Linked DNA regions of Homo sapiens. The protein of the gene in region 1 purifies or fractionates together with the protein of each later gene. This does not show direct contact. Each region holds a gene or a part of one and is shown in the gene's direction. Other genes may lie near its edges.

What was found.
Region 2: the proteins of WDFY3 (region 1) and DCAF6 purify together in Homo sapiens (affinity purification with mass spectrometry; 2 studies listed by BioGRID and IntAct, with this or other methods). This does not show direct contact.
Region 3: the proteins of WDFY3 (region 1) and DDX11 purify together in Homo sapiens (affinity purification with mass spectrometry; 2 studies listed by BioGRID and IntAct, with this or other methods). This does not show direct contact.
Region 4: the proteins of WDFY3 (region 1) and HERC1 purify together in Homo sapiens (affinity purification with mass spectrometry; 2 studies listed by BioGRID and IntAct, with this or other methods). This does not show direct contact.

The regions. Positions count from the first base shown.
Region 1 is NC_000004.12:84,816,093-84,823,860, reverse strand, and holds part of WDFY3 (WD repeat and FYVE domain-containing protein 3), read left to right. Parts: intron 1-2,309; coding exon 2,310-2,777; intron 2,778-3,674; coding exon 3,675-3,776; intron 3,777-6,275; coding exon 6,276-6,469; intron 6,470-7,768. UniProt on the Homo sapiens protein: Required for selective macroautophagy (aggrephagy). Acts as an adapter protein by linking specific proteins destined for degradation to the core autophagic machinery members, such as the ATG5-ATG12-ATG16L E3-like ligase, SQSTM1 and LC3.
Region 2 is NC_000001.11:167,932,085-167,940,084, forward strand, and holds the start of DCAF6 (DDB1- and CUL4-associated factor 6), read left to right. Parts: upstream 1-4,598; 5' UTR 4,599-4,827; coding exon 4,828-4,924; exon of another isoform or gene 4,925-4,988; intron 4,989-4,994; exon of another isoform or gene 4,995-5,168; intron 5,169-8,000. Other genes in the region: MPC2 (mitochondrial pyruvate carrier 2), read right to left, coding at 3,649-3,757. UniProt on the Homo sapiens protein: Ligand-dependent coactivator of nuclear receptors. Enhance transcriptional activity of the nuclear receptors NR3C1 and AR. May function as a substrate receptor for CUL4-DDB1 E3 ubiquitin-protein ligase complex.
Region 3 is NC_000012.12:31,068,667-31,077,042, forward strand, and holds the start of DDX11 (ATP-dependent DNA helicase DDX11), read left to right. Parts: upstream 1-5,193; 5' UTR 5,194-5,425; intron 5,426-5,598; exon of another isoform or gene 5,599-5,878; intron 5,879-8,376. UniProt on the Homo sapiens protein: DNA-dependent ATPase and ATP-dependent DNA helicase that participates in various functions in genomic stability, including DNA replication, DNA repair and heterochromatin organization as well as in ribosomal RNA synthesis.
Region 4 is NC_000015.10:63,823,498-63,831,265, reverse strand, and holds part of HERC1 (probable E3 ubiquitin-protein ligase HERC1), read left to right. Parts: intron 1-7,768. UniProt on the Homo sapiens protein: Involved in membrane trafficking via some guanine nucleotide exchange factor (GEF) activity and its ability to bind clathrin. Acts as a GEF for Arf and Rab, by exchanging bound GDP for free GTP.

The DNA.
Region 1 (7,768 bases):
CAGAGTATCTTCTAAAGTGGCTGTCCAATTTTTGCATTCACATCAGTAATGTCAGTTCCAGTTGCTTGACGCTGTCAGTAACACTTGGTATTGTTAGTCCTTTTAATTTTAGACATTCTACTAAGTATGTAATAATGTCTAATTGTTATTTTAATTTTCATTTTTATAATTGACTAATGAAGTTTTGCATTTTTTATGTGCTTTGTCACCATCTGTTTCTCTACCTTGGTTCAGATCTCTGAGCCCATTGTTTGATAGGGTTGTTTTACTGGAGTTATAAGAGTTCTTTAGATATTCTGTATAAGTTCTTTATCCCTTAATATGTATTTTGGAAGTGTGTTCTCTTAGTTTTGACTTGCTGGTTTTTTTTTAACGCATCTTTTGAGAAATGGAAGTTTTAAATTTTGATGAAGTCCAGTTTTTCATTTTAATAATATTTTGTGATTGTTTTTCTCCTATTGAAGAAATCTTTACTTCAGATTCACAAAGATCTCTAATGTTTTCTTCTGATTTTTTCTTTATCCAGTGTTTCATATTTTAACTTTTAAATTAAGGTCTATGGTACATTTTAAGTTATTATCATAGAGGGTAGAAAGTAAGGATTTCTTTTTTAATATGGGTATCTGAATGTGCCAAGACCCTTTGTTGAAAATATCATATATGACTACATATATCTGAGACACTTTCTGAATTTTGTTTGATTGATCCATGTACCTGTCCTTAAGCCAATACCACACTGTCTTGATTGCTGTAGCTTTATAATAAGCCTTAAAATCAGGTCACTTAAGTTGTCCAGTTTTGTTCTTTCTTCTCAGAATCATATTGGCTATTCTAAGTCTTTTGATTTTCCATATAAATTAATAATCACATGAACTATTTTTTTGAAAAGCTGCTGAGATGTTGATTATTCTTTTCCAGACATCTTTACTTTTTATATTATGTAGGTAACCAAAAAACAAACTTAGATAGACTGATAGACACAGGAAACAAAGATAAATTTTTGGTATTTGCCATACATGTAATAAACAAGAAATTAGAGAATTGAAATCATATATAGGCTGGAGATTTTTTAAATTTCCTGTGTTTTTAAGAAATGTCGAAGTCAAGATTTCTGAGCATTCTTTTTTGTTTGTTTGTTTGTTTATTTTACAGACAGGATTGCTTTCTGTCGCCCAGGCTGAAGTGCAGTGGTGTGATCATAGCCCACTGCAACCTCAAACTCCTGGGCTCAAGCAATCCTCCTGCCTCAGCCTCCTGCCTCAGCCTCCTGAGTAGCTAGAACTACAGGCACATGCCACCATCCCCAGCTAAATTTTTTTTTAAATCTCTTGTAGAAATGGAGGTGGTCTTGCTATGTTACCCAGGCTAGTCTAGAACTCCTGGCCTCAGGCAGTCTTCCCAAAGTGCTAGGACTACCGGTGTGAGCTACTGCCCCCAGCCCTGAGTGTTCTTTCTGCTCCATTTACTAATTTTGGTAGTTCTCTGGTTTATACTCTTTCTGAAATCCAGCTTATTCTGTCAGACACTATGTTAATTTTTTGGTCATACTTGGAAATGCCATATACTCCTAATAGGTATTGTTCTGGGGACTCCTTTTACAGGCAAGCTGCTTATTTTCATGTACTTCAAATAGAACTTTCTGTCTTAATTTCTTTATAATTATTGTCACTAATTTGCCTCACCAGAGCCATGTATAAAGTTTTTTTTTCCCCATTTGGTACGTTTGAATAGCTGGCCATAAATTACTTTAACAAATGTCTATATGAAGAAATTGTACTGTTAGCTAGAAAACAAAACAAACTTCCAGCTTAAAATTTATAAAAATCACAGTGTTCTAATTATAAAGGAAAACTGGAATTTAGAAAAATTTTCCCCTCCTGTTTTCCTGCTTCATTATTGCTGCTCTCAGGCCTGTAACTTCTTCAGCCTCAAAGTCTTTTTAAATTGAGAGACAGCTGTCCTTATAGTCAAAATCAATCTCATAGATAATAAAACTACCACTCTAAACTCTGAAGCATGGATGTTTATAATAATATGCTTTTATTCCCTCTAAAACAGTCTAACTTTTCAACATACACTATTTTTGAATTGAAATATTCATAATAATGCATTAAAGTTTTAATCATTGTTATTTTTAATTAAATGATTTGAACCTGATGAAGAAAAATAAGACCTTTTGTGAAAACAGGGTTATGTTCTTAGTAAATAATTGATAAATGTTATAATTCATGATGTGTTTAAACAGACTAGTTTGCCATCATTAAAATATCACATAGTACCTACTTTTATGTTTTTCTTTTCTGTTCTAGGTCACAGTGTGAGAAACGTCCAGGCCTTTGCAGTTCTTCAGAATGCATTTTTAAAAGCAAAAACCAGCTTCCTTGCCCAAATCATCCTTGATGCTATCACAAATATTTACATGGCTGACAATGCCAATTACTTCATCCTAGAGTCACAGCACACATTGTCACAGTTTGCAGAGAAGATTTCTAAACTCCCAGAAGTACAAAACAAATACTTTGAGATGCTGGAGTTTGTTGTTTTTAGCTTAAATTATATACCTTGTAAAGAACTTATTAGTGTCAGTATCCTCTTAAAATCTAGCTCTTCTTATCACTGTAGCATTATTGCAATGAAAACACTTCTTAAGTTTACAAGACATGACTACATATTTAAAGACGTGTTCAGGGAGGTTGGCCTTTTGGAGGTCATGGTAAACCTTTTGCATAAATATGCTGCCCTGTTGAAGGATCCAACTCAGGCACTAAATGAACAAGGTAAAGTATTGTCTGTAATTTTATTTTTATTTGAAAAGGGGTTCAAAACAGAGAATTTTTTGTTCTTGTTCCCATTCTTTGGTTATTGATTTCAATGACTTCCTAATGTGCATTATTGTGACATATTAGTGAACTGTATTTTCCAAAATTTACAGGTTCATTCAACCTCTGTTAGGTAATTGAGGAGGAGGAAGCTAGAATTATGTGAGTGTATTGGAGAGAGTTTAAAGGAAGGTAAAAACTGAGGGAAAACATGTATGATCCACATGACTAGTATCTACTGCCTTGTGCTTCTAAGAGCGAGCTTTAAAAGCTTCTGAAAATAATCAGATTTGTTATTAATTACAACTAATAAATATAGTTAAATGTATAGTTACTTCAATGTGTTTTTATTGTACAGAGCAAATACGTATATTTAATGATGTTATATACACAATGTATTATCATTGGGTACCTCTCTGATAAATCTGATAAAAGTACAGTAGTATCTGGCAATTAATAAGTATTAAATGTGAATTAATACAGGTTGAATAGATAGCTTTATTCATGAACTTTTCTCTCTTTTTGGTGTATCAAAATCTAGCGTTCTCCTGTTGACATCCTTTATTAGGAAAACCCTCTGTGAAGAGGATATATTTAACCTTTGCATTTTCATTTTTAATATTTATTGGATAACGGCCACTTGCAAGCATACCGAAATAAAATCTGTTAATATTGATTTTGAGCCTACTTTTGCCAAATGTTGGATGCATGCATCGTTTTAAAGATTATATTATATCTGTCCTATTAGGGGTAAAACTGAATACTGAAGAAATAAAGAAATTATTACAGTAAAACGGAATCAAGAAAAAATAAGCTTATCACTTTTGTAATTTGGACCTTTGAACCTTTTTTTAGGGGACTCAAGAAATAATAGTTCAGTTGAAGACCAAAAACACCTGGCTTTATTGGTTATGGAGACCTTGACAGTGCTTCTTCAAGGATCAAACACAAATGCAGGTAATTTAAAAAGCTGCAAGCAAATACTTTGGGAGATTACCACTGATTACATCTTCTGTGGTTATTCTTGCTTCTGAAATCTTCCTGTCACTTTAGAGAAAAAACTATTGATTCAGTGATGGTACCCGTCATGTCCCTAAAAATGCAGTGCTTTTGACCATCAGGAGCACCTTGATGACAAAACATATAAGATTGTTACTATTTCAAAATGATGTTTAAATTGCTTTTTATAGTGTCTTGTGTTGAAAGTATTCTTCTAATTTTTTATTGATACACTCTTACTCAAATAAGTTGCTATTTAAATTCTTTCTAAAATATTTTCTTTACACAGTGATTTAAAGAATATTTTTAGTACTACAAGTTAGAGTATTATAATGTTACAACCTTCAGGAAATACTGAACAATGATTCTCTAATAAAACGTAATCTCTCCAAGGTTAATTAACTTTACTAAATATTTTGTTTAATTTTGGTCTCAATTTCTCTTTTATACTTTTCTACCTGTCATTAACAGATAACCTAACTATATTTATAAAATATCACTCTTGCTTTTTAAAAAAGATTACTTGAGATTTTAATTAACATCAAACAACTCTCAGGTAATAAGTTCAGTACAACTTGAGAGGAATAATGAGTTCAGATTAGTAGGCTGGGCTCAAATCATAGGGAGCTTTTTAGGCCATGGTAAGGAGCTTGAAATATATTTTAAGTGTTATGGAAAGCCATGGATGAATGAACCCCATGCCCAAATGCATGACTGTTTGCCTGAATGCAGGGAAACTCAGCATTCATCATATTTAAAATATATTGTGTATCCCAGGTACCATGCTAGCTAGGTGTTAGATTATTCTAACACCTAGATGCTAAGGTAAGATCATTCTTGCTCCCTGGGAATTAGAATCTAGTGAAGAAAAATGTAGACACATAATTATAGAAGTAATTAGTCTGATACAAATTTGGCAAATGCTAAGATAGACTTGAATGAATTTAACAGGTAATTGAAACAATGAGTATGATGAATTTTAGTGGATACTATAGTAACATTTTGTCTATGGCATAATGCATAATCTTATTTCCACTAACTAGGTTTAGTTAACTGAGATAATCAGAAACATAATGAAGATAGACTAACAGGAATTTGCTTAGCAAATTAGCTTTCCTTGAGACGACCTAGAAGTTGCACAGGAAGAGATTGGACAATTGGAGAGCTTACTCTGCACGACTAAAAGTCACTTAGTACATATCCCAAAGTGCCAAACAATTTCATACAATTCTTTTCAGTTTTTCTTTTCCCAGTATGAAAGATGTTACTAGCTGTGTGATGTTAGGCATTTAAAACAGTACTTTACTCATAGTTTAAGTATTTAAATAATATTAGCCATTATGATTATCTAGTGGGTCCTAACTGACAACCAGGAGGTAACTAAACAGGCCTTCAGGTAATGAAAGGATGTCACAAATTCCATGTGCTGAATCTCAAGCACATGGCTTAGACTGACTTCATGATCTTATAATTTTTATAAAGTTAACAAATAGAAAGCCACTAAGCAGAGAGGACAGTGGCTGCTATAGCAGAATACACTGTTTTAGTAAACGTTTATTGAAACACAAATCAGGAGAAAATCCAGTAGTCATGGAAGACCAAACATAAGCAATAATAGTAAGACTGTTTGTTATAAACCATAATAGAGATATAAACAAGATGCCCTAAAAACGTAAGGGATAGAAGAATTACTTAGAGGAAATACTAATTAGTGATTTCAGTCACTGGGCCCATTTTTTTAATACTGGAGGATGATATTAATATTTGATGTGAGAACAGTATCACTTGTGAGCAGGAGCACAGGCTTACAGAGCTGGGCTATGTAGGCATACATCCTTTTCTGTTGCTTACTAGCTGTATGACTTTGACCGCCTTACCTCTATATGGTAGGGGATGAGTATTAAGTAAGTCAATCTGTGTAAAGGCTTTGGAGCAGTAACAATGACACATACTTCTGTTACAGAATTTGTCACTTTTTGTTCTTATGCTCTACCTGTGCAACAAAACATGTTGGTTCCTTGTAATTTTTCCCATGGTGGAATAATTTATTCCATTCCTTTCTTGCTACTATTTTGGAAGCCATGTTCATTTAAATCTCCTTTATTTAGGCTATTGTTCCTCTGAAAGCCTTTTACATAAGTTGATTACAATAGAGAGTCTCCTAGGGTCTGCCTAAGAGACTTGTGAATGTTCTAGATTTTGAGAGCTTGGACATGGTGAACATATCACGGCATTAATCTTGCATTAAGGAAATGTAGAGAAAATTTGCATATACCTTTGCTGACAACCCACTGTGCAAATTTGTATTGTAATTTAAAAGGTGAAATAGTTGGGTAGGTTTTATTTACATTATTATGAGTTACTTTACCTACAAAAAATAACTGAATGTTAATTCATCTGACTTGTCTCAGAATATTTTAAAGTAGCCATTGTTGGACTTTTTCTCCTTCCTTCAAGGAATTTTTCGAGAATTTGGAGGTGCAAGATGTGCACATAATATAGTAAAGTACCCTCAATGCCGGCAGCATGCCTTGATGACTATCCAACAGCTGGTGCTCTCCCCAAATGGGGACGATGACATGGGCACTCTCCTGGGGCTAATGCATTCAGCCCCACCGACGGAATTGCAGTTGAAGACTGATATTTTAAGGGTAAGTTTGATAAATGTGTTTCCCTTCTTTTACTACTAAAATCTGTGGTTATTTTTAGATGATCTGTATTTAAGTTAGAGACAGGGAAATTAAAAAAAATCCAAATTACCCAAGAAACCTCACAACTTTGTACACGTTAGGAACTTGGAAAAACTCCAGTCATTTATGTCTTTCAGTATATATTTTACTTCTGCTGATAAACCTTTTCAGTAATTATCTTGACTTACTGGAACTCTTAAATTAAATATTAGTGAAGTATAGGATCTTAATTAATACTAAATATATGTATTTTCTGATCAGTTAAATTCACTCATAGTGTTATGCATCTGTGAAATGAATGTTAGATTTGGCATTTTATACACATGCATGCATATATGTATGTATGTAAGTAATGGATATTCTAGTAGATATCAAACAATATACCAGGAGTTATACATATGCTTTTATCATTTACTCCTTAGTAATACTATAAATTAAGTAGCACCCTGTTTTGCAGATGAGAAAACTTAGGTTTAGAGAAATCATATAACATGGATTTTGTTCACTTAAGTGACTTTTAATTAGTAGAACCGACCCCCAGATTTCAATACCCGTTTTATTTCCACAGCACCATTGTTTTATACAGATTTATACACTCACATTCTCCCATATTACTGGTTATTGATATTATAAGAAATGATATGTAAGAAATTTTTAGAATCAAACTATAATCGAATGTTTCACTTTCATTTAGAAGTGAATTTAGTAATGCAAGTAAGGAGTAATGGAAAAGTAGACTATTAAATATTAAATGATATATTTTAAAAATTTCCAAGTTCCAGATATAATAGTAGCTAACATTTATTGACTGCTTTCTATTAGTACTGTTGTATGCATTTATCTGCATCTACTTATTTAATCCTTATGATAAAAATAAATACTATTAGTGTCCCTGCTTTACATACTGTAAACTGAAACACAGACTGGTTGAAATATTTTCCCAAGTTCTATATGTCTGTCTAGTAGGTAGAGGAGTCTAGATCTGAACCCATGTAGTCTCTTTGTAAAGCTGTGCTTTCAGCTTATCTGCTGTGAATAATAGTTGTTTTAATAAAAAGAGACATAGCCTTCTCTTTCTGTGACTAAAAACCTGCTCTTGTATTTAAATAATATCTGAGTAAAGTGAAAGAAGTCCATTAAAATTTATGTTCTTTAATTTATTGATTGATGCAAGGTTTCTAAATACAATTTTCCGTTGTAAGGATTCAGGCCTCCTTGATTCCAGGACGAGGGCAGAGAAAGAAACAAAATGAGCCTAAA
Region 2 (8,000 bases), on another chromosome or scaffold:
ATTCAGTAAAAGGAGAGCTATAATGCGTTAAAATGATATGGTTCAGATAGCTGTTTTTGGGACTAACTTCACCAAAGGATAGTTTTTAGACTCTTTAGAGCTGTGGTCTTCCAGCTCCTCTTGAACATATGCCCTATCAGTAAAAAACAATTTGAGTATACATCCTGTTTATAAATCATTTATATATTTATAAATTATATAGAATTACTGCAATAATATATTTTTGTATTACAGAATGTATACACAATGAAAAATTTAAGTGGATGAAATAACAGTAAACGTTACTGGAAGTTCTATAATTTTCTTCCTACATTCCAGTGTTTCATTGTGTGCACCCCTTGGGATGACTTACCCCATTTTGGAACTCACAAATACAAATAAATGACACTCCTCCACTGATAATTTTTTTGTTTTCCTTAACTAAGCTTTTAAGAAAACATTGGGCCGGGTGTGGTTGCTCACACCTGTAATCCCAGCACTTTGGGAGGCCAAGGCAGGTGGATCACCTGAGGTCAGGAGTTTGAGACCAGCCTGGCCAACATGGGGAAACCCCATCTCTACTAAAAACACAAAAATTAGCTGAGCATGGTGGCACATGCCTGTAATCCCAGCTACTCAGGAGGCTGAGGCAGGAGAATCGCTTGAACCCAGGAGGCCAAGGTTGCAGTGAGCCCAGATCACACCACTGCACTCCAACCTAGGGAACAGAGCAAGACTCTGTCTCAAAAAAAAAAAAAAAAAAAGAAAAGAAAAGAAAAGAAAAAATAACACTGGGCAACATAACTTCAAGATTATTTCTTTGACAAACACTGGAGTACAGCTATGCAACTGGCTAGGGTGGAGTCACATATTTTTATAGTCAGGTGGGGGATAATGCGGGGACTGACATCCTTTTTTGTGAGTTGAGGAACTTGACCAGGACACACATTTGGCTAGAACTCTATTCCTTCTCTACAGTGGCAGATCATGACATGCCAGCAAAAACACATAGGCAAATGGATAATGAGAGCCTCAAAATTCTGGCTCACAGGTCAGAGATGCAATACTGTAACTAAAATATGTATCTATACATAAAAACACATTAGTTTTTTTTTTTTTTTTTGAGACAGAACCTCGCTCTGTTGCCAGGCTGGAGTGCAATGGCACGATCTTGGCTAACTGCAACCTCCACCTCCTGGTTTCAAGTGATTCTCCCGCCTCAGCCTCCCAAGTAGCTGAGATTACTGGCACCCGCCACTACACCCGGCTAATTTTTGTATTTTAGTAGAGATAGGGTTTCATCATGTTGGTCAGGCTGGTCTCAAACTCCTGACCTCAGGTGATCCACCCACCTCAGCCTCCCAAAGTGCTGGGATTACAGGTGTGAGCCACCGTGCCTGGCTAAAAACACATTCTTGTTACCTGTCGAGACATACAGTGTCAGTGATAAAATTAAATCTCAAAAATCTAGAATCAGCAATGTATGATTTCCAACTGTTAATATTGTAGCATTTCATATCATTTAATAAACTCCTTGTAGGTGAATCTAGAAAAATGTTTCAATGACAATTCAATAACAAATACTGTTAGGCAAAATAGTATGCAAAATCCTTGAATATTCACTCTGGATAAACTCTTAAGACAATAATCAGTGTTTCCTTAGATTTTATTCAATACTCATCAGTCAACGTATTTTTCAAGCTCCTCCATTTCTACACTGGTGTGCCTCCAACTTGTCGATCATAAATAATTCTGCTGTAATAGATATCCTTACTCTGTATGTTGCTCAAATTTTAGAACTGACAGTTATTGAGAGTCTAAGTGCAAACGCTGTGCTACATGTTTTAGAGACATTAGATCATCTGATTTTCACAACAATCCTGAAATGATTACAATTACTCCCATTTTATAGATGAGATAACTAAGGCAGGAATTTAGGGTCAAGGTCACACAGCCAAGACTGAAACGTAGGTCTATTTCCCTTCAAAGCCTAGCTCCTTTTACTACACTGAAAAAGGGGGTTAAAATAACTGAACGAATCCAAGGATTTTCAGGTGAAATGCACATCCTGCAAGTGAAAGGTAATCCCTCTTCATTCTGAAAGCTGAGTAGTATTTTAAGCAGTAATTACAGGTGGCTAAAAACTAAAGGCTTGGAAAGGATCAAGGTAAGACTACCCTCCAATTTTGTATTATTTTAAGTAGTTTAAAATTACTCTTACTCTGTCATGCCCTTATCCTACAGCTAAAACACAAAGCTTATGAAGGTCAGGGTTGACTTCACATTCAGTTGACTCTGTAAAGCCCAGATTATTACAAAAAGCATAGCTCAACCCTCCTTCCCGAAAATCTTTGCCACAAAACACAGCATAATTCCAAAAAAATTGAATGTTAAAAGAACTAAAAGGCAAATAAACAAAAACTTTTTAAATCAGTAACAAACTGTCCTTAATGATCAGTTTTATAATGGGTTCAATGTTGCAGTAAATAATATTAAGGGTTAGAGTATAATCCAGATGTTCAATTCATTCCATTATCAAACTGGAAATCAGATTTAGTAACCAGTTCAGACTCCAGAGAGCTGGTTCATAATCAGATAATGGGGGAACTAGACAACTTTCCTAATGATACCAACTACAGAATACAGATTTTAACTATGTAGGAGAATAAAAGCCACTTTTCGGGTAGCACTTCAGTCTTTCAATTTACAACACATTTTCTAGTTTGCCAAGTCTTAGGCTTGAAACAGACCTCAGAATATATCTGATGTTAGCCCCTAGCAAATAAGTATTATTACAACTCACTTTATAGAAGAGGTAACAGAATTCTAGATCTTTAATAAAGGGATTGGAATCTTTCAGTTTCTTACAGTTTTTTTTTTCAACCACAAGAACACAGTTTTCCAGTAGGCAAAGAGAGATGTAACGTTTACTGAGCATTTACAAAGAGTCAAGCACATATGTTATCTGTCATTCTCATAGACCGCGTATTACACAAACAGAGATCTAGGCTTTTGCTCAAGGTCACAACTATAAGTGGTAGAAGAGAATGATATCCAGGTCTGTCCACACAAAAAGCTCTGGGTAGAGCTTGTTCAACAATTTCATAAATAAGGATAGACTTAAAAAAACACACTGGACCTATGGGATGAGAAATGACACTGACTCAAGCCTGGATGAAGTAAAGCATGCAGTTTGGGGGAGGGCTCAGTCTGCAGGCCTCTGCCAGCAGCAGCTGAAGAAAGTGACCTTTACTCCAAACCCTACAGTGCGACAAACCACCCATCCAGCTCTGCCTAGAGTGGGTTAATATGCCACAATTCGAAAAGAGAAAGAGAATGAGTGTTTCATGGTGGCCCCAGACAGTTTGGTGGCCGCAGAAGTTGAGAAGGCTCAAATCTGGAGATCAGGTTTGGGTTGGAGTCGTGCGTAAGGGAGCGGATGTCACATAGGTGGGGAAGGGAGCTGACTTGAGATACGTTGGCTTAGGAAGAGATGTTGCAGGAGAGAGGGTGAAATGCACAGGCTAGGAGAGTAGACGGCTTCACTTGAAGGGAAGGGATTGGGGCTGTGGATGCCTCTAGAGGCAGTTGTCAGAGGGCCTCTAAAAGGTCCATTTTAGAGGAAGCGAGAAGGAAGGTCTCGATAAGGAGCCATTCAGGGTCCATTACCTGCTGGATGGTTGTACAACGGCCTCAATTTCTCGGGCAGCATCAGCTCCACTTTATCGAGGAGCCGGTGGTAGGTGGCCCGCAGGCCTCGGGCACCGGCGGCCGACATCGCCGCCGAGGGATCGTTGGCAGCCGGGTGGGAGCGTGGCTGTGTTCTCGTCCCTGGCTGACAACGAAGGGGAGCTAGTCACTTTTCCTGCCACGACGACTCGCGTCCGCCTCTCGCCTGGAGTACCCTTCCCGCGGCTTTCCCTGCCCGCTGTGAACCGAAAAGCTGCGGCCCGCGCCCCGCGAAGGTTGAGGGGGCGGAGGCTGCCGACTGCCAGCCCCCGGTCCGCCTCCGGCCCCCGGCAGGAGAGAGGGAGGAGCCATGGCAACAGGTGCCAAAATAATCACCTCACCAAGTCTGCGCTGCGCCCTGCTGGCAGCGCGCTTGCGCAGGCCGAGCTGCCCGCCATGATTGGCCCGCCCCGAGGCGCGGGCGGGGTCGAGCGGAAACCTCCTCCTTCTCCCCATGCCCTCGAGGCCATGTTGGAGAAGGGAAAGTGAAGCTGCGCTGGTTCTACTGCCCTTTCACTTTGATTAAGCAGGCCCGTAGTTAAAATGGGTTTTTGGGCCTTCAGTGCCTAAAGATGATGCCGCACAATTCTCTTGCTTCTTTTCACTGGAGACTCGTGAGCGAGAGACTACAGAATTGAGTAGCTTCTCTCTCTACTCGTCTTTTATCCCTAGCGACTTAAGGATCTGGTTAGAGTGGCCCGAATGCATTCTTCCAGGGTGAGGGCAGCCGCAGCACACACCAGCCTCAGTCCCCAGGGTGGTCGTCATCTCGCGAGAAAGGGTTGGCGGGGAGGGTATCCAGGACGAGGAGAGGGAGGAGTCGCCATCGCCTCCGCCTCCGCCTCCTCCTGTTGGAGGGGGGCTGAGGGAGGAGACTGTTGCTGATCTTTGGATGTTCTGGTTAGTCTAAGAAGGAGAGTATGAGGCGAGCTCCGGCCCGGGTGCGGCCGGGCTTCAGGGGCCCAGGCGCCGCTGCTGCCACCGCCATCTAACGCTGCGCCCTGGAGGCCCGGCGCGCGGATGGTGCCGGTGCGGCTCGGGTGTTGAAACGGGTGTCCCCTCCCCCTCCTCCCCTCCCCCACGCGGTGGTCTCCCCTCCCACCCGGCTCAGGCAGAGCCATGTCTCGGGGTGGCTCCTACCCACACCTGTTGTGGGACGTGAGGAAAAGGTCCCTCGGGCTGGAGGACCCGTCCCGGCTGCGGAGTCGCTACCTGGGTGAGCGGGGGCCCCGGGGCGGAGGCGCTGAGGTCGCCGCCTAGAGTGGGGGAGGGGGCACGCTGCCGGGTCTGTTGGAGGTGGGACGGCGTCTCGGTGGGGGCGCCCGGAGACTCTGGGGTGTTGGGTGGGGCCTTGGTTGCCGAATTCCGTGCCGGTGCCTCCCCCAGTCAAGCCCCCTGTGCATGCTGCCAGCCGCCGCCCTTGCTGGGTTTTTCTCGGAGGGCCGGGCCGTGGGCAGAAGGTACTGGCTTGTAAAGGTGTTGGGGTCGCTGATGGGTTGGGACTCGGGAGACTTGCGGAACCTCCAGGAGCTGCCGCGTTTAGAGCAAAAGTTAGCTCTTTTGCTCTTTTCCAGCGCGCTTTCCCCGCTCAGCCGAAGAACCTAAGTTGTTGCCCACCCTCTCCTTCAATCTCCAGAGGGTTTAGGTGTCGGCTGCGACGCGTTGACCACCCTCAGGGACTTCACGCTCCAGACAGAATCCGTGTAAACTGTTTTTGCGGCGCTGAGCCAAAACCTAAAAGTGATAGCTGAGCTCTCCCCACCCCCGCGCGCTCTCCCAGTTCCACTCTGCTCTTCAGTTCGTTTTGACCGCTTAAAGGTGGTGTAGGGTTTCACGTTCCTCTTCCCACCCCTGGAAAACACACTTGGCATTTACAGTTTCGTAGTTAAGCTTTCTAAAAACAACCTTCAGTACTTGGGGGAACAGTATTCCACTTTTTTCGTTTTGCATAACATTTTTTTTTTGAGGATTCTAGGTCACGCCCGAGTCAACTAAAAAGTTTGGTTTCTTAAAAATGGACGTACTTAGTAAAGGTCTTTTTTGTTTCTTCCTGTATACTCTTCATTACTCTTTCTTTCTATTTGGAGATACGGCAAACAACATCATAAAATTTTTTTCTTTCCAGTTTTGCCACTTGCTAGTTAAAAAGTGTTTGTTGCTCTCATTTGTTTTTGATTTCAAGTAAAGAGAAGAAAATGAAATCTCATTACAACCAACAGTTCTGGTTTGTAAATTATTTAAGAAAAGTTAGCATGCAATTTTTTAATTCTTTTTAGTGTCTCAAGTAAAATACGAATACATTTTGTTTATAAAAACTCAATAAAAATGAAGCAAAAATCCCTTTGATCCCTCCCATTCAATTTCACTCCGCCACCCTTAGAAATAATATTTTCTGTTTTCTGAATATTCTTCCAGACCTTTTTGTTTGCATTCTTACAAGTACATATGTACATGTACAAATGCTGGGGTGTGTGTGTGTTTGTGTGTGTATGAGAGAGACACCTGAGTGCATGGTGTCATATTGTAAACATTGTTTTCACTTCTCCACATTTTGGAGATCTTTCCATGGCAGTAAAAATAGATTGATTCTGTCTTTTAAATTATTACATAGTAGGTAACATTATGAAGTACCATAGGGTACTCAACCTTTCTTCTTTAAGTAGACGTTCGCCCTTACAGCATTTTAATGAACATCATTCTACAAGCTTCTGTGCATTTGTTGTAGGATAAGTACCTAGAGTGGTGATTAATCATTTTAAAATTGAACATAGCTGGAGTCTGGTTTTTAAAACTATTTACCAAAAAAAGTGTGCAGTATTTCTTTTAGAATTTATTTGCGGAGAAAGAACTTAATTTTAGCTTAATAAAACAAACGTTAACATTGTTTTGCATGGATACATTTATAATTTGGTCCTTTATCTCAGTTGGACAGTTTAAGTACTTGTATATAGTTCTATATTTTAGTGTTTTCTTTTGGTTCAGTTACTTCAGCTATATCTACAAACGAGTTAATTAAAATATAACAAAACCATATACCTGCTTTTCCCCCTCCTACTCCAACTCCCTAATGGAAATGGAATTTGTGTATTGGGTCTAGGGGAATTGAAGGGTTCACTGACTATATTAGAAAGCCTGAATTACAGTTTTTCAAATGTGTATGTATACATACAGGGAGTTCTTTATCTTAAATAATATTTTAGATATGATAATATATACTCTTAAAATAGGACATTTTTGGAATGACTTCCTTTAAAAGTGGTTTTCTAAGTACTTGAAAATACTTTTTGAAAGTATCGAAACTTGAAAATGTTTGCAAAGAACTAATTTATTGGCCTTTACCCTTAGTAGACCTTTACACTGTTATTCAGCTCTTCTATACTACAGTGCTAATCCTGGCTTTGCATTCAGGAAGCAGCAAAATCCACATTGGTAATGTTTGAATTAGTGATGGTTTTTTTTAAAAAATGACTTTCCCTCCCAGTTTTATTGGGGTATAATTGACAATTAAAAATTGTTATATTTAAGGTGTAGGACTTGATAACTTCATATACAATCAAGTTAATTAACATATCCATCATGTCACATAATTACCATCTTTTTTTGTGTGTGGCGATAAAATGACTTTATCATTATTATTAATTTTATTTTTATTATTAGATAAAATGACTTTTTAAAGTACAGTACTCTTGGCCGGGCGCGGTGGCTTACGCCTGGAATCCCAGCACTTTGGGAGGCCAAGGTGGGTGATCACTTGAGGTCAGGAGTTTGAGACCGGCCTGGCCAACATGGTGAAACCCTGGTCTTTACTAAAAATACAAAAATTAGCCGGGAGTGGTGGCGTACGCCTGTAGTCTCAGCTCCTTGGGAGGCTGAGGCAGGAGAATAGCTTGAACTTGGGAAGTGGAGGTTGCAGTGAGCCAAGATTGTGCCACTGCACTCCAGCCTGGGCGACAGAGGGAAACTCTGCGTCATAAATAAATAAATAAATAAATAAAGTATGGTACACTTATAAAGCCTTCCTTTTAAAAGTCAAATTCCAAGTTAGGATTTTCCTAAGGAAATAGATTCCTTTTTTAAAAGACTTCAATATTTAAACATTACGATTGTCTATCTACAGGGTTGTAGATTTAAGTATTTTTCTGATACATTTTCATTATTTGTATTTCTACAGATTTTTTAGCAGTGAATTACTGCTAAATAGTAAAATTGGGATAGAACAAATAGATAAATTTTTCTTGTAGCCTTTACATTTCCAGTTATTTCACCATAGCATGTGCCCTTTCAATGTTAAT
Region 3 (8,376 bases), on another chromosome or scaffold:
GGGCCATTTGCACATCTTTTACGGAGAAATATCTATTTAAGTATTTTGCCAATTTTTTTAATCAGATTGTTTTCATGTTGCTGAGATATAGAAGTTCTTTATATATTCTGGTTATTAACCCCTTATCAGATAGATGATTTACAAATACTTGCTCCCATTCTGTAGGTTGCCTTTTCACTCTGTTGATCCTGCCCTTCAATGCACAGAAGTTGTAACTTTTGTTGTTGTCCAATTCATCTATTTTTATGTTATTTTACAAATCCCTCAACTCATCACCAATTTTTTTTGTTGCCTGTGCTTTTTGGTGTCATAGCCAAGGAATCATTGCCAAATGCAATGTCATAAAGCTTTTCCCCTCTGTTTTCTTCTACCAGTTTTATAGTTTTATAGCTTTTAACTTTAATTTTTAATTTTAACTTCATTTTAACTTTAGAAAATCCATCTTAAGTTAATTTGGATATATTGTATAAGACAAGGATCCTACTTCATTCTTTTATATGTGGATACCTCCTTCCTTTTGGAAACTTTTCCTTTCAGTAATCTTACTACCTCCACAGCTTTAGTTTAGATGTTTTTTGTTGTTGTTGTTGTTTCCCAGGGGTGATCAAATCCATATATCCAGCTTTTACCACCTTCCTGAGTTCTAGTCCCCCCATTTTCAAACACCACTGAAAATTTAGTTTGACTAAGTACATCAACCTATTATGTGAAGAAACACCATGTCCCACCCCCACTACGGTGTGGCTTAATGAGCTAAAGTAATATATCAAGATAGACATAATAATCCAAGAAACTGGGGTTCAGAGAAGTAAATATTATTAGGGTGCATCTTGCGCTGTTCCAGAGTGAGGCATATAGGGTTTTGGGGACAGAACAATCTAGTCTCTGATAATGTTTTCTCTTATAGCACAGGCACATTTCATGAGCCTTTCCCACTACCTAGGTGTTCCAGTTTGGATGTGGTTTGTTTGGCCTAAGTCTCATGTTGAAATCTGATTTCCAGTGTTGGAGGTGGCGTCTGGTGGGCAATGTTTGGACCATGGGGGTACATCCCTCATGAAAGGCTTGCTGCCCTTATGGCAGAAGTGACTCAGTTCTCACTCTTAGTTCCCAAGAGAATTGCTTGTTGAAAACAAACTTGTACCTCCTACATGCTCTCCTTCTAGAAGAGGATCTAAGGAAATTTATAATAAAAGCAGAGGAACGCTGAAACCAAACCCAATTCATATCAGTAATAGCTACCATTTGTTAAGCTTCCACAATGACAAGTAAGATGTTAAGCCCTTTATGTTACCAGGATTATCTCATTTATCTCATAAGAATTCTAGAACATAGGTCCTATTATTATCTTTATTTTATTCGTGAGAAAAGCAGAGACTCAGAAGGCTTAAGTCATAGGCCAAGGTCATCCAGCCAGTTGAATGGTGGAGTGGGGAATATCTGGATCCAGGCAGTCAGACTGTTTTTTTTTGTTTTTTTTTTTTTGAGACGGAGTCTCGCTCTGTCACCCAGGCTGGAGTGCAGTGCCGTGATCTCGGCTCACTGCAAGCTCCGCCTCCCAGGTTCACGCCATTCTCCTGCCTCAGCCTCCCAAGTAGCTGGGACTACAGGCGCCCACCACCACGCCCGGCTAATTTTTTTTTTTTTTGTATTTTTAGTAGAGACGGGGTTTCACCATGTTAGCCAGGATGGTCTCGATCTCCAGACCTCGTGATCTGCCCACCAGGCAGTCAGACTTTATTAGAACATGCACTTAAAATTAGCAAGAAGGAATGAGAACAACAACAACAAAATTAAAAAATGCTTGCCAAAGAAAACTAAAACAATGTGCAATATTTAGCCCTGAGATCACTAGCAGTGAAGGCAAAGAAGAATGCATAATGGGTTTCTACAGCTCTCACTGTCCGGTTATAGAAAATATTTCTACATTAGTACAAGCACTTTTCTTCCTAAGCCCTGAGTTTTGAGAGTTTATCAAGAAGGCCTCTGAGTTCATTCAATTAATGGCATCATCTAAGGCTGTTTAATAACAAATGCAGAGGTAGTCCACATAAGGAACTTTTGCCTTTACCTTTGAGACAAAGCCCAGGGCCTCACGTTAGGAGTACAGCTCTCTAAATATAAGCCTCCAGGGCAGAAGCGAGGGGAGGATGGAGGGACACAATGCAGATTTACAGCCTGGTGGGTACGGCCTTTGTCCTCTCCATGTCTATTGTCACTCTTGAGGTCCAAGCCTCTACTGCACTGCCTGGTTTACTGCACAACCCAACTTGGCTGCTTGCTTCTGGTCTCTCCCCACCAAACCATCCTTCACACTGCTTCCAGCTTAATATTTCCAAGACACTGCATTTGCAAATCCACTCCTCTGTTTAAAAATGTTTCAGTGACTTGCAACTTGTCTACAGTGTGAAGTATAAATTTATTAGCTTGTTGTTTAAAGCCTTCTACAACCAGACCCCGACCGACCTTCACGTCCTATTGAGAGGTGACAGCCTGCTGGCAGCCCTCGCAGCCCTGGCTCGCTCTTGGCGCCTCCTCGGCCTTGGCACCCACTCTGGCCGCGCTTGAGGAGCCCCTCAGCCCGCAGCTGCACTGTAGGAGCCCCTTTCTGGGCTGGCCAAGGCCGGAGCCAGCTCCCTCAGCTTGCAGGGAGGTGTGGAGGGAGAGGCGCAGGCGGGAACCGGGGCTGCGCTCGGCGCTTGCGGGCCAGCGCGAGTTCCCGGTGGGCGTGGGCTCGGCGGGCCCCGCAATCGGAGCAGCCGGCCCGCCAGCCCCGGGCAGTGAGGGGTTTAGTACCTGGGCCAGCAGCTGCCGTGCTCCATTTCTCGCCGGGCCTTAGCTGCCTCCCCGCGGGGCAGGGCTCGGGACCTGCAGCCCACCATGACTGAGCAGCCCGCCATGACTGAGCCGCCTGCCGGCGCCCCAGCCATGGGCTCCTACGCGGCCGGAGCCTCCCCGACGAGCGCCGCCCCCTAATCCGCGGTGCCCAGTCCCATCAACCCCCAAAGGGCTGAGGAGTGCCGGTGCACAGCGCGGGATTGGCAGGCAGCTCCACCTGCTGCCCGCTGCCGCATCCACTTGGTGAAGCCAGCTGAGTTCCTAAGTCTAGTGGGGACTTGGAGAACCTTTATGTCTAGCTAAGGGATTGTAAATACACCAATGGGCACTCTGTATCTAGCTCAAGGTTTGCAAACACACCAATCAGCACCCTGTGTCTAGCTCAGGGTTTGTGAATGAACCAATCGGCACTGTGTATCTAGTTAATCTGGTGGGGACTTGGAGAACCTTTGTCTAGCTAAGGGATTGTGAATGCACCAATCGGCACTCTGTATCTAGCTCAAAGTTTGTAAATGCACCAATCAGCACTCTGTGTCTAGCTCACGGTTTGTAAATACACCAATCGACACTGTGTATCTCGCTAATCTAGTGGTGACCTGGAGAACTTTTGTGTCTAGCTCAGGGATTATAAACGCACCAATCAGCACCCTGTCAAAACGGCTCAATCAGCTCTCTGTAAAACAGACCAATCAGCTCTCTCTAAAATGGACCAATCAGCAGGATGTGGGTGGGGCCAGAGAAGAGAATAAACACAGGCTGCCCTAAGACAGCAGCAGTAACTCACTAGGATTTTCTTACCACAGTATGGAAGCTTTGTTCTTTTTGTTTTTTAGGTCTGCACTGCCTTTATGAGCTGTAACACTCACTGCAAATGTCTGCAGCTTCACTCCTGAAGCTAGTGAGATACACGAACCCACCGGGGTGAACTAGCAACTCCAGTACATGCCGTCTTAAAAGCTGTAACACTCAGGCGAAGGTCTGCAGCTTCACTCCTGAGCCAGCAAGACCACAAACCCACCAGAAGGAAAAAACTCCAAACCCATCGGAACATCTGAGGGAACAAACTCCAGACACACCGCCTTTAAAAACTAACACCGCGAGGGTCTGCAGCTTCAGTCTTGCGTTAGTGAGACCAAGAACCCATCAATTCTGGACACACTATCAACTTTGTTTCTCCAAGGGTGCTTCTTAAACTGGATGATGCACACCCTAGGAGTGTGTGTGTAGGATGGGGTTTGAAGCAGTAGGGTAAAAAACCTAGCATACATTCTATTCCAGAGGTGTCAATTTACCAGACAACAGTTATTTTAAAACTTTTTTATGCAAAAACATGTTATAGGGTGGAATGCAACATTTTTATGGGCCTGTGGGCCATTTGTATACATCTTTGGAGAAATGGCTATTTAAGTACTCTGCCCATTAATTCTAAACTTAAAACTAAGACTTCAAAGTCCCTCTAAGGATTTTGCTGGGCCACATCCCAAGACCCTGAAGGGTATTACTTACTCGCCCTCTCCAAACTGCCGAAGTCGGAAGCAGGTGACAAAAAAGCTGACCCTGGAATCACCTTTTGTAAATTTCCCACCTCCAAGCTTTTCGATAGTTTGTAACACTGGCTCCTCTCCCCAAAAGCCTTTCCTTCAAGTCCCAGCAACTCTCCCTGACCCTGCTGGGAAGGCGCACCAATTACCTGTCATTCCAGGAAAGCTCATAGCATAAGATGATCCCATTGGTCATCTCCCAGAACCAGACTTTCTGAAAAGTCCTCAAGGACCAGCTAGTCCAATCCCTCACTGAATAAAGGAGAAGCAAAGTCTAGGGAGGTGAGGTGATTCGTTGTCCTCCTAATTAGCAGGTGAGCTCCTGGCAGGGCTGGGGTTTCATCTTCTGGGCTCTCTGCAAGGTCGTGCCCGGCACGGGCCAGGAACAATTTCATAAACTCGTCATCTAGACGGCCTTTGACTGACACCATCTCTCCGTGTGGAGGAGCCGCTGGGGTGCACGGGGCAGGTGTCGTCCGTTTCAAAGGTAAAATAACCCAGCTGCAGACCTCCAGAGGCCGACTAGAGCCGGGGTCAGAAAACAGGTTTTCCCTCTCGGGGACAGCGCCCAGGGGACCGGCATTAGAACATCGGCTGATGTTTCATCTGGTCAGGGAACCATCCAGCGCTTAGTACACCTGGCGCTAATCGGCGGGGATTAATCTCACACCCCGCAGCTGGCGGAAAGCAGCGGGAGGAGGCACCTAGCCCTGGGGTTGAGATCCCAGTTCCCGCGTGCGCAAACCACGCCCCTGTAGATTCTCGCTGCTGCGTGTTCGCGCGCGTCCCGGAGTGCGCATGCGCAGCGGCGGGGGTTGTTCCGGCTGCCTTTCACTGAGGGGACCCGCCAGTTTCTAACTCAGTGGCGTTTGCCCTGATTCCCGGGGCCTGGCTTTCAGCGTAGCAATTCTGCCGGCGAAGAAGGTGAGCGCAGTGCTGTGTGGCAGCAGAGCTCCTTAGGACGAGGAGCAGCGGGACGAGGAAGGGCAGACTGGTGAAATCGCAAACTGGGCGTCTGTTCCGGCGCCGGACCCCTATTTGCAAAGGTGGGTGGCCCGTCCGGAGCGGGAAAACATTCCGGAAGTGGAGGGCCGGGCCAGCGTGATTGACAAGCGGGAACCCCTGTGTGGGGACGGGTAGGCCTAGGAAGGTTGTGCCTGCGGTGGAACTGGGCGGTGCGCAGAAGTGGGCATTAACAGCAGCCGCGTGTCTGGGTCTTAGATTTGGCCCAGCTGTGTTGAGCTTTTCATGGATTATCTTACGTAGATAAGACACTGCAACAGTGAGTGAGCGCTTGTAACCCACCTGTCTCTTACGGAAACTGAGCCCCAGCGATGCTAACTTTAGCAAGGATACAGCTGGGATCCTAAACTTGGCAATCAGAGCCCAGAGCCGATAAAGTTAGCTGCATGAGTCTAGCTTCCCCCAGGGCGGGAATCGAGGCGGAGCAGGGTACAGTACGGAGGCCAGGAATGAGTGCACTTGACCAGATTGTTGACGGAAGTGTCATAAAAATGGACTTAAATGCTGATAAGCAGCTGTTTGGGTTCCACACAGGGTGCGAGCTCAGGATGCACGTTGGAGGGGACACAGGGCCAGAGCAAGGTGGGAATGCGGGTATTATGGGCCAGGCCATCCTCCAGCTGGTGGAGCACCGCAGTACTGCAGTGTGTGGCCCTGGCTTAACAGCAGTGCGGAAAAGCTTTTTTCTTGGGGCTGTGGTGCTTTCCAGGTGTGTGAAGTTAAAACATTTTAGGGCCATACGGTAGATAGTACCTGCCACATAGTTGTCTTGGTCAGCCCCGGCTGCCATGACAAAATACCATAAACTGGGTGGCTTAGACACAGAAATGTGTTTTCTCACAGTCCCAGAGGCTTGGGATGTCCAAGATCAATGTGGGGAGGACACAACTGAGCCCACAACAATAGTCTGTACTCAGTAATGAGTGATAATTGGGGACTGAAGAAAATGAACACGTTAAGAACTAATATGTTCCTGAAGTGCTTTCACAACTCTAACCTCGTTTTATGAGCGTGAGCTTTGCTGTCCTGGTGTGTGCCTTGGCACTGGGAGGTGATGGTTGTCCTCCACACAGCCAACCTGAAGAGGGCTGAACAAGTCACTGCAAATGTTTTTAATAGGGCTTAGTGAATCCGTTATACTCAGATTTATCTAAACCTCTATGATTTAGCCTGTGCTGCTTCTGGAATAATGAGATCCATAATTACCACTGATGGGGAAGTGAAATAATACTTACGTTTCTTCTGTATTGTTTAGTGTTGTCATTCTAGAGTTTGGTAACCAAGTCTGTCTTTTTTATCCCACTTATCCTGGTGGGAGGAAAAGTGAGGAGATAGAAAGTTTCAGGTGGCTTGGGGGTCTGGCAGATGTGGTTCAAATCCTGAGTTCAAGCACTTGCTGAGTGACCTTGGGCAAGTCATATAAGTTTACTGAGTCTCAGTTTCTTTCTCTATAAAATAGAGCTTATAAAAATACCACACAGGGTTTTTGTGGGGTTATCTGAAAACGGTTTGAAACCATTAAAGAACTGGCCATTTAACTAATAGGTATTCAAGTCATGGGACCTCCGTTACCCAGCCTCGGAAGAGAAACCTTCACTTACAGCCCCGATGTCTGGCTGGCTACTCATTCGTTCATCAGATTTTTGTTGAATGCCTATGAGGTGTCGAAGCACCTAGTTCTGAGTCCTGGAGCCAGAGAAGAGCAAGACAGACAAGGTTCCTCTATTTATGGAACGTATATTCCAGTGAGGAAGAATAAATAGGTTCAGATGGTGCTAAGAGCTATGAATAAATTAAATACAGAGTAATGTGATTTTTTAAAAGTGACTTAGAGCAAGCTAGGGGGTGAGGAGTGGGGGTGGTGTTTGACCACTGTCCAGCGGCCAGACAGCCGGAGAGGCTTCTCTGAGGAGGTGAGCCAAAGCCTGGATATTGAGGAGGACTCCTTCTCCAGGCCAAGGGGAGCAGCAAGTGCAAGGCCCGAGCTGAGTAGATGAGGCTGGGAGCCTGACCAGTCTCAGGCTGACCAGTGCTCTGTCTTGAGAGGAGCTGCTGGTCAGCTTTTTGTCTTGGGATTCAGAACGAGGAGACATGAAGACTTTTTACTTGGCAGTGGGAGCTGAAGCTGAAAGGTCCAGGGGCTGATGAGGCCACGTGTAAGCGAAAGTTTGGGATAAGCAGAAACCGAGTGCGCTGAGGGAGTGAGATTGTGGCTGTATCCGGCACCTGGCTGAGCAGGAGAGTGAACCCCGTGGGTGTGTGTTTGCTGGTGACGTTCCTGGAGCTGTCTTGAAGTCCGAGCTGCCTTGCAGCTTGTAGTCTGCCTCTGTTTTTGGCTTTCCCAGATAGTTTCAATTCTTACTCTCAGTTTGTGAACCTCCCTTCAGTGAACCTCCCTTCACTTATGCTGGATATCTCTTGCAACCGGATGAGCTTCACTAAAGCAGAGTCATTTGGACCTGGATTCGAATCCCTGGTTTTCCACTTTTTAGCTGTGACTTTGAGCAATTATTTAATTTCTGTAAGCATCAGTATCCAGTAGCTGTATCCTTATAGTGTTGTACAGATTAAATGAGATAATAAAAGCAAAAGACCACTGTAGAGTGTTTAACACATAGGAGGTACTCAAAAATTTGTTAGGTACCTTTCTTCCCCTTTCCTTCATGTGTTAAAGCTTTTTCAGTACATACCCCTCTCTCAGGATTGAATTGTAAATCATGTTTTTTGATTACCCTTCTTGTAATAATTCCTCTACCTCTGTAGTCATGTTTTTCTTTTTTCATTTTTTCTTGTCCCCAGAATGTCTAACAAAACAGCCAAATATACCTCTGTGAAGACAGAGGGTAAAATAATGCTAGTTCTGTGAGTTCTCTCTTCTTGTGCAAATCCATAAACTGCCACCAATCTGTAGTCATTTTAATTGCCCCTAAACCGAAGAGCATCGTGGCAACTACCTTTCCCCTCGTAAATAGAG
Region 4 (7,768 bases), on another chromosome or scaffold:
ACGTGGTGGTGCATACCTGCAATTCCTGCTATTAGGGAGGCTGAGATGGGAGGATCAATTGAGCCTGGGAGATTGAGGCTGCAGTGAGCTGTGATTGCACCACTCTACTCCAGCCTGGGAGACACAGTGAGACTCTATCTCAAAAGCAAAATAAAACAAAACAAACAACAACAAAGGTCTACACAACTTTGGCTTAACATACACATGAAATACATTGTTGTGAGCATGTATTGCAGATTATCATGATGTTGAAAACATAAAAAGTTGGTCAAATCATTTACAGAGAAGTTTGCAAAGCCAGGAAGGTCACATCTGCTAGCATTTTCTTTAACTACAAAAAGTGAAAAAGAGCATAAAGTAGTTGTTTACTTACTAGATGCCAGATCCGATTTTCATGATTTTAGTTTGTTCTGATGTTGCCTACCGGGCTCTCTAAATTAATGGGACTGTTAAATTTCAGATGAGATCCTTGAGCAAGAAGATATGACAGTTGTATCAGATGATTGGTTGATGGATTTTATTTATTTTTAATGATTTATTTAGAAATAATGTTAGACTTACAGAAAAGTTACAGAGAGAGTACAGAGTTCTTACATACTCTTCACCAAGCTCCCCCTAATGTTAACAACTTACATAACCATAATACAGTGATCAAAACCAGAAGTTAGCATTGGTGTAACTCTATTGACTATAGATTTTACTTAATTTCACTGGTTTTTCCCCATTAATGCCTTTTTTTTTGTTCTAGGGTCTAATCTAGGTTCCCACGTTGCATTTAGTTGTTGTGTCTTCTTCATTTCCTCCAATCTCTGACAGTTCCTCAGTTTTTGTTTTTCACGACCTTGACATTTTTGATGAGTACTGTTATTTTTTAGAACTTCTTTCATTTTGGGTTTGTCTGATGTTTTTTCTCATGATTTGATTGAGGTTAAGCATGTTTTGCAAGAAAACTACAGAAGCGATGTTGTGTCCTTCTCAATGCATCATATTGGGGGTACATGGTGTTGACATGTCTTTTTGCTAGTGGTATTTTAACTTTGAACCCTTAGCGGTATTCTTCACAGTAAAGTTACTATTCTTCCCTTTATTGTTCATACATATCTTGGGGGAGACACTTTGAGACTGTGGATGTACAGTTTCTCCTCAAACTTTCTCCCATTGATTTTTAACATCCATTGGTAGATCTTGTCTGCAACAGTTATTACTGTGGTGTTTGGCTAATCATGATTTTGTATTTCCCTCATTCCTTCTGCATTTATTAATTGGAATTCTTTAAGGGAGAGATGTCCCCTTTCCCTCACTTATTTATTCAATTATTTGTTTATATTAGTGTGTTCTTATGGGATCTCTATTTTCTATGGATTATAATCCAATACTATCATTATTTATTTTGTTGTTCAAATTGTTCCAGCTTTGGCCATTGGAAGCTCTTTCAGGTTGGCCTCTACCCTTTTTCAAGCACTTTCTTATATTCTGGGGCCACAGGCTGTTCCATGCTCATCTTATTTTTCCTTGCACCAGTCCTGGAGTCGACTACTTCTCCAAGGAGCTCTGGTTTCTTTTATTGGAGAATAGTATTTAAAATCAAAATCTGTATACTCGGTATGTTTATTGGAGTTTTATTGCTCCCAGGACTTCAGTTGGCAGAACTAGGAAATATATCAGTATATTATATATATATATATATATATATATATATATATACACACACACACACACACATACATATATGTGCACACATATTATTTATATATGTGTGTGTGTGTATATATATATATATATATATTTATATAAACATATATGTGCACACACACACACACATACTGACGTTTCTTTCTTTTTTGAGACAGGGCCTCACTCTGTCACCCAGGCTGCAGTGCCGTGGCGTGATCATAGCTTACTGCAGCCTTGAACTCCTGGGCTTAAGCCATCCTTCCACCTCAGCCTCCCAAGTAGCTGGGACTACAGATGTGCACCCACCATGCCCCGCTGATTTTTTTTTAATTTTTAGTAGAGACGAGGTCCTGCTGTTTTGCCCAGGTTGGCCTTGAGCTCCTGAGCTCAAGTTATTCTCCCACCTTGGCCTCTCAGAGTGTTGGGATTCCATGCGTGAGCCACAGTACCCTGCCTGTATTCTATATATATTTAAAACCATGGGTTCATATTGACACCTATTCTAATCCAGTACCACAAAGTTCATTCTAACCTTCTCCCGTTCCTTCTGTCTCTGTCAGAAACCTGGCTTTCATGATATAGAGTAAGTATACTCACTTATTTGTTGACTTCTAGAATACACATGAAGTGGTTACAGATTGCTAACCTGTACCCTAGTGAAAAATGTATTTACTAATTAGTGTATTTGTATGTAGTTATTTTTGCTTTAGCCTTATAGTATCTAGTCAAAATAGTTTTCCAAAGTTACTTAGGTTAGTTATTTTCTTTACCACTCCCTTTAGTTTAATCTTATTCATCCCTAATGCATTAAGTTCATTTGTTATTGTTACTGTTCCATTTTGGGTTCCCTCCAACCCTAGTTGATTTTAATTATTATTATTTTTTGGCATATGAAACATTATAGTTACTAAACACTGCTTCTACTAAACACTACTGTATAAAAAGGTGTACTGGGCTGGGTGCGGTGGCTCATGCCTGTAATCCCAGCACTTTGGGAGGCCGAGGAGGGCGGATCACCTGAGGTTGGGAGTTTGAGACCAGCCTGGCCAACATGGAGAAACCCCATCTCTACTAAAAATACAAAATTAGCTTGGTGTGGTGGCGCTTGCCTGTAATCCCAGCTACCCAAGAGTCTGAGGCAGGAGAATCACTTGAACCTGGGAGGCGGAGGTTGCGGTATGCCAAGATCACGCCATTGCACTGCAGCCTGGGCAACAAGAGCAAAACTTTGTCTTAAAAAAAAAAAAGGAAAAAAGTTGTACTGAAAAGTGTCACTCTCTCCTTGTTTTTACTATCTCATTTCCATCCCTCCATCTTTGTTTCTACCTCTTGCCCATGCCCTGTGGGTACATAGTCTCTTTAGTTTCTGGTTTGTCCCTTCCTTTATTTCTGTTACACAAATGAAAATATATGTGGGTGTTCTCTTATATTCCTTTTCTTCTGATACAGTTACTTATTGCCATACAATTCACATACCATACAACTCACCCTTTTAAAGTGTACAATTCAGTGGTTTCTAGTATATTCACAAGATGGTGCAACCATCACAACTATCTAATTCCGGAACACTTTCATCACCCCCAAAAGAAACTGTGTATCCATTAGCAGTCACTTCCCAGGTCCGCTTCCCAGTCTACTTTCTGTCTGTGTGTGTTTGCCTATTCTGGATGTTTTGTGTTAATGGATCATATAATATGTGGCGTTTTGTGCCTGGCTTCTTTCACTTAGCATAATTTTGTCAAGGTTCATCCATGTTGTAGCATGTATCAGTACTTCATTCCTTTTGATAACTGAATGTTATTCCGTTATGTGAATATACTACATTTTGTTCATGCGTCAGTTGAGGTACATTTGGTTTTCTACTTCTTAGCTGTTATGAATAATGCTGTTTTGTACATTCATGTACAATTTTTTGTGTGGACATATATTTTTAATTCTCATGGGTATATATACCTAGGAGTGGAATTGCTGGGTCATATGATTACTGTATGTTTAACTTTTTGAGCAACTGCCAGATTGTTTTCCTGTTCCCTTCTTTTTTATGTGGAGAGTATACTATACTCTTTTGCACTTTTTTTCACTCAATAGTATATCCTGGAAATGACTCCAAATCAGGTCATTCTTTTGAAGAGATATTCCTTTCATTTTCTTCGGTCTTTTTTTTTTTTAAGACACAGTCTCACTCTGTTGCTCAGGCTGGAGTGCAGTGGTACAATCATGGCTCAAACTGTGGCCTTAATCCCCTGGGCTTAAGCGATCCTCCTTCATCAGCCACCCAAGTAGCTGGGACTACAAGTGTGCACCGCTATACCTGGCTAATTTGTTGATTTTTTGAGATGGGGTTTTGTCATGTTGCCCAGGCTGGTCTCGAATTCCTGGGCTCAAGTGATCCTCTCACACTGGCCTTCCAAAGTGTTGGGATTATAGGCGTGAGCCACTGCACCCAGCCTATTCTTTTTTACAGCTGTGACTTGACTGTGTAGATGTTTCTTAACCTCTTCAACCATTCATCTATGTATGGGCATTTAGGTTGTTTCTTATGTAAATAGCCTTGCGCGTAGTATTTTGGTATCGTTAGAACCGTATCTTCAAGGTAGATTTCTGTAAGTGTGATTGCTGGTTCAAAAGTTAAGTGCACATGTAGTTTTGTTAGATATTCCCAAATTCCAGATTTTCCTCCACAAGTATACCAATTTGCATTCTCACCAGTAATGTGTGAAAGCACCAACAGAATACGTTGTCATACTTTATATATATATATATATATATATATATATTTTTTTTTTTTTTTTTTTTTTTTTTTTTTTACCAGAGATAAGTGATTAAAAGAATAGTAGTCATTCGGGTGACCCCTTGTGGATGAGTGCTTAATGCTTGCAGATGGTTGGTTCTTATAGCTTGAAAATGAAATACATTGTCCACTAATACTGCATTCATACATGTAGCTTATTATGTGCAGGTAAAGTCCATTAGTTCTGGCCTAGTCAGGATTGTTCATTTTAACATTTTGCATTTAATGGAAGTGCTACATTGATTCATAGTACCTGTGCTCTAAAATACTTTTGGGGTTTAACAGAGGATAACTGAAATTCTAAGAATATTTCTTAGGCTAGAATATGTGATATGGTAGTTACTGGTTCACATTGTACATAGTTATTTTGAACGGTATATACAGTACGTATTGATACCCATGGTATGGTAGTTATTTGGACCAGTAATGGCAGTATCTTGGAACCTGTCATAGTTCCATAAGGAAGAAGGGCAGTCGTAATGAAAATTAAACCGCGAGTTTAAAGTTCTGGGTTAGGGCAATCCTATTAGATTTTAGCGGTGCCAAAAAACCAAGACAACATGAAGAAATCCCCATCTTTTAGGGTAACAAGTGCTGCCCAGCAACACTGGAAATTTAGGTTCATTCCCAGAAAGAGTGCTGCTCCAGGTGCTTGGAACACATTAATTGAAAATCAAAGATTCTGGCACTTGATGAGTTTATATTCCATTCGTTTTCTTTTTAAGAAATTATTATTTGGCCGGGCGTGGTGGCTCACACCTGTTAGTTCCAGCACTTTGGGAGGCTGAGGTGGGTGGATCACCTGAGGTCAGGAGTTTGAGACCAGCCTGGCCAACATGGTGAAACCCCGTCTCTACTAAAAAAACAAAAATTAACTGAGCATGGTGGCGGGTGCCTGTAATCCCAGCTACTCGGGAGGCTGAGGCAGGAGAATCACTTGAACCCAGGAGGTGGAGGTTGCAGTGAGCTGAGACCCACCGCTATACTCAGCCTGGGGGACAAGAACGAGACTCCATCTCAAAAAAAAAAAAATTATTATTTTTCTTTTTTTTCGTGGTTTTCTAATGAACTGATGTTCCCAGGAAAATAGATGCTGAGTGCTGATTGTGAATGGAACCAGTAAAGGCCTGGGATAGTCTTAAAGTACAATCACCTTTGCTGCTATAAAAACTTCAAATAATACTTCATTTTACTGATTACAAAATAAGCCCACAAAAGTCACAGGATGGTAACATATTGTTCACCAGTCTCTTCTCTCTCATTTTATTTGTTTATTTCAGGCTTACTTACTTATTTATTGTATAAATTTAATGTGTACACATGATGTTTTGATATACATAGTGAAATGATTGCTGTATGTAAGCAATTTAAGATACCCATCATCTCACATAGTTACTTTTTTTGTATGTGCTAGGAACATTTAAAATCTACTTTTAGAAAATTTCTGGTATATAATATGCTAATATTAATTATATTGCTCTTGCTAACTTTATTTATTTTTTGAGACAGAGTCTTGCTCTGTCACCTAGGCTGGGGTGCAATGGCATGATCTGCGTTCACTGTAACCTCCACCTTGGGTTCAGGTGATTCTCATGCCTTAGCCATTGGAGTAGCTGGGTGTGTGCTGCCACACCTGGCTAATTTTTTGTATTTTTGAGGAGATGGGGTTTTGCCAAGTTGGCCAGACTGCTCTCGAACTCCCGGCCTCAAGTGATCTCCCTGCCTCGGCCTCCCACAGTGCTGGGATTGATTACAGGCATTAGCCACCGTGCCCAGCCCTCATGCTATATTTTAGATCTCTAGATTTATTCATCCTACATAACTGCAACTTTGTTCCCTTGACCTGCATCTCCCCTACTCTCCTAGCCACTGTTCTAGTCTCTGTTTCTATGTATTTGACTTTTTTTTTTTTAAGATTCCACATATAGAAGAGATCATTTAGTGTTTTTTTTTTTTCCTACGTCTGACTTGTGTCACTTAAGACAGTGTCCTCCAGTTTCATTTGTTTTGTTGTAAATGGCAGGATCTCCTTTTTGAAAGCTGAATACTATTCCAGAGTGTGTTTGTATCACAATTTCTTTATAGAGCCATCCACTGACAGACGTGTAGGTTGGTTCCATATCTGAGTTAGTGTGAATAATGCTGCAGTGAACATGGGAGTGCAGCTCTCTCTCAGAGGTGCTGCTTTTATTTCTTTTGGGTTAAAACCGAGAAGAGAGATTGCTGGATCATATGGTGGTTTTCTTTTTAATTTTTTTTTTTTTTTTGAGATGGAGTCTCACTCTGTTGCCCAGGCTGGAGTACAGTGGCATGATCTCAGCTCACTGCAACCTCTGCCTCCCGGGTTCAAGTGATTCTCCTGCCTTGGCCTCCTAAGTAGCTGGGACTACAGGTGCCTGCCACCACACCCGGCTAATTTTTTTGTATTTTTAGTAGAGATGGGGTTTCACTGTGTTAGCCAGGATGGTCTCCATCTCCTGACCTTGTGATCTGCCCACCTCGGCCTCCCAAAGTGCTGGGATTATAGGCGTGAGCAACTGCGCCCAGCCCTTTTTAATTTTTTGAGAAACCTACATACTGTTTTCCATAATGGCGGTTCCAATTTACATTTCCACCAACAGTGTTCAAATATTCCCTTTTCCCCACTCCCTCATCAACACTTATCTCTTGTCTCTTTGATAATTGCCATCCTCACAGGTGTCAGGTGATACCTCATTGTGGTTTTGATTTTTTGATTTGTGTTTCCCTGATGATTAGTGATGTTGAGGCATTTTTATGTCCTATTTGGAGAAATATCTATTCAAGTCATTTGCCCGTCTTAAAATCAGGTTATTCATTTTTGTTTTTTGCTATTGCGTTGTGTGAGTTCCTTACGCATTTTGGATATTAACAGATACATAATTTGCAAATATTTTCTCCAAATCCGTAGGCTACGTTTTCATTTTGTTAATTGTTCTTTTGCTATGCAGAAATGTCTCTCATTTTAAATTATTCCCAATAGTAGTAATGGAATAATAATAATGGAATAATAGTAGTATAGTATAGTTTCTTTTTTTCTTTCAACTGGGTTTCATAAGAGAATAAACCCAAATGCCCAAAGACATTTGGACATTTGTTATATGTAAATAATTAACTTTTCTCCAATGTAGGATGGCACTAGTTATGTACCATCCTTGTGAGAATTGAGAAAGTATCCACTCCGACCATTGTCAATGTTCTGAGGTTCAGATAACAAGCCCCAGTTGAGAAAGGTCACGGGCATTGTCACCAGTTAGATCTGTTCTTTCCCCCAGCTCCTTCTTC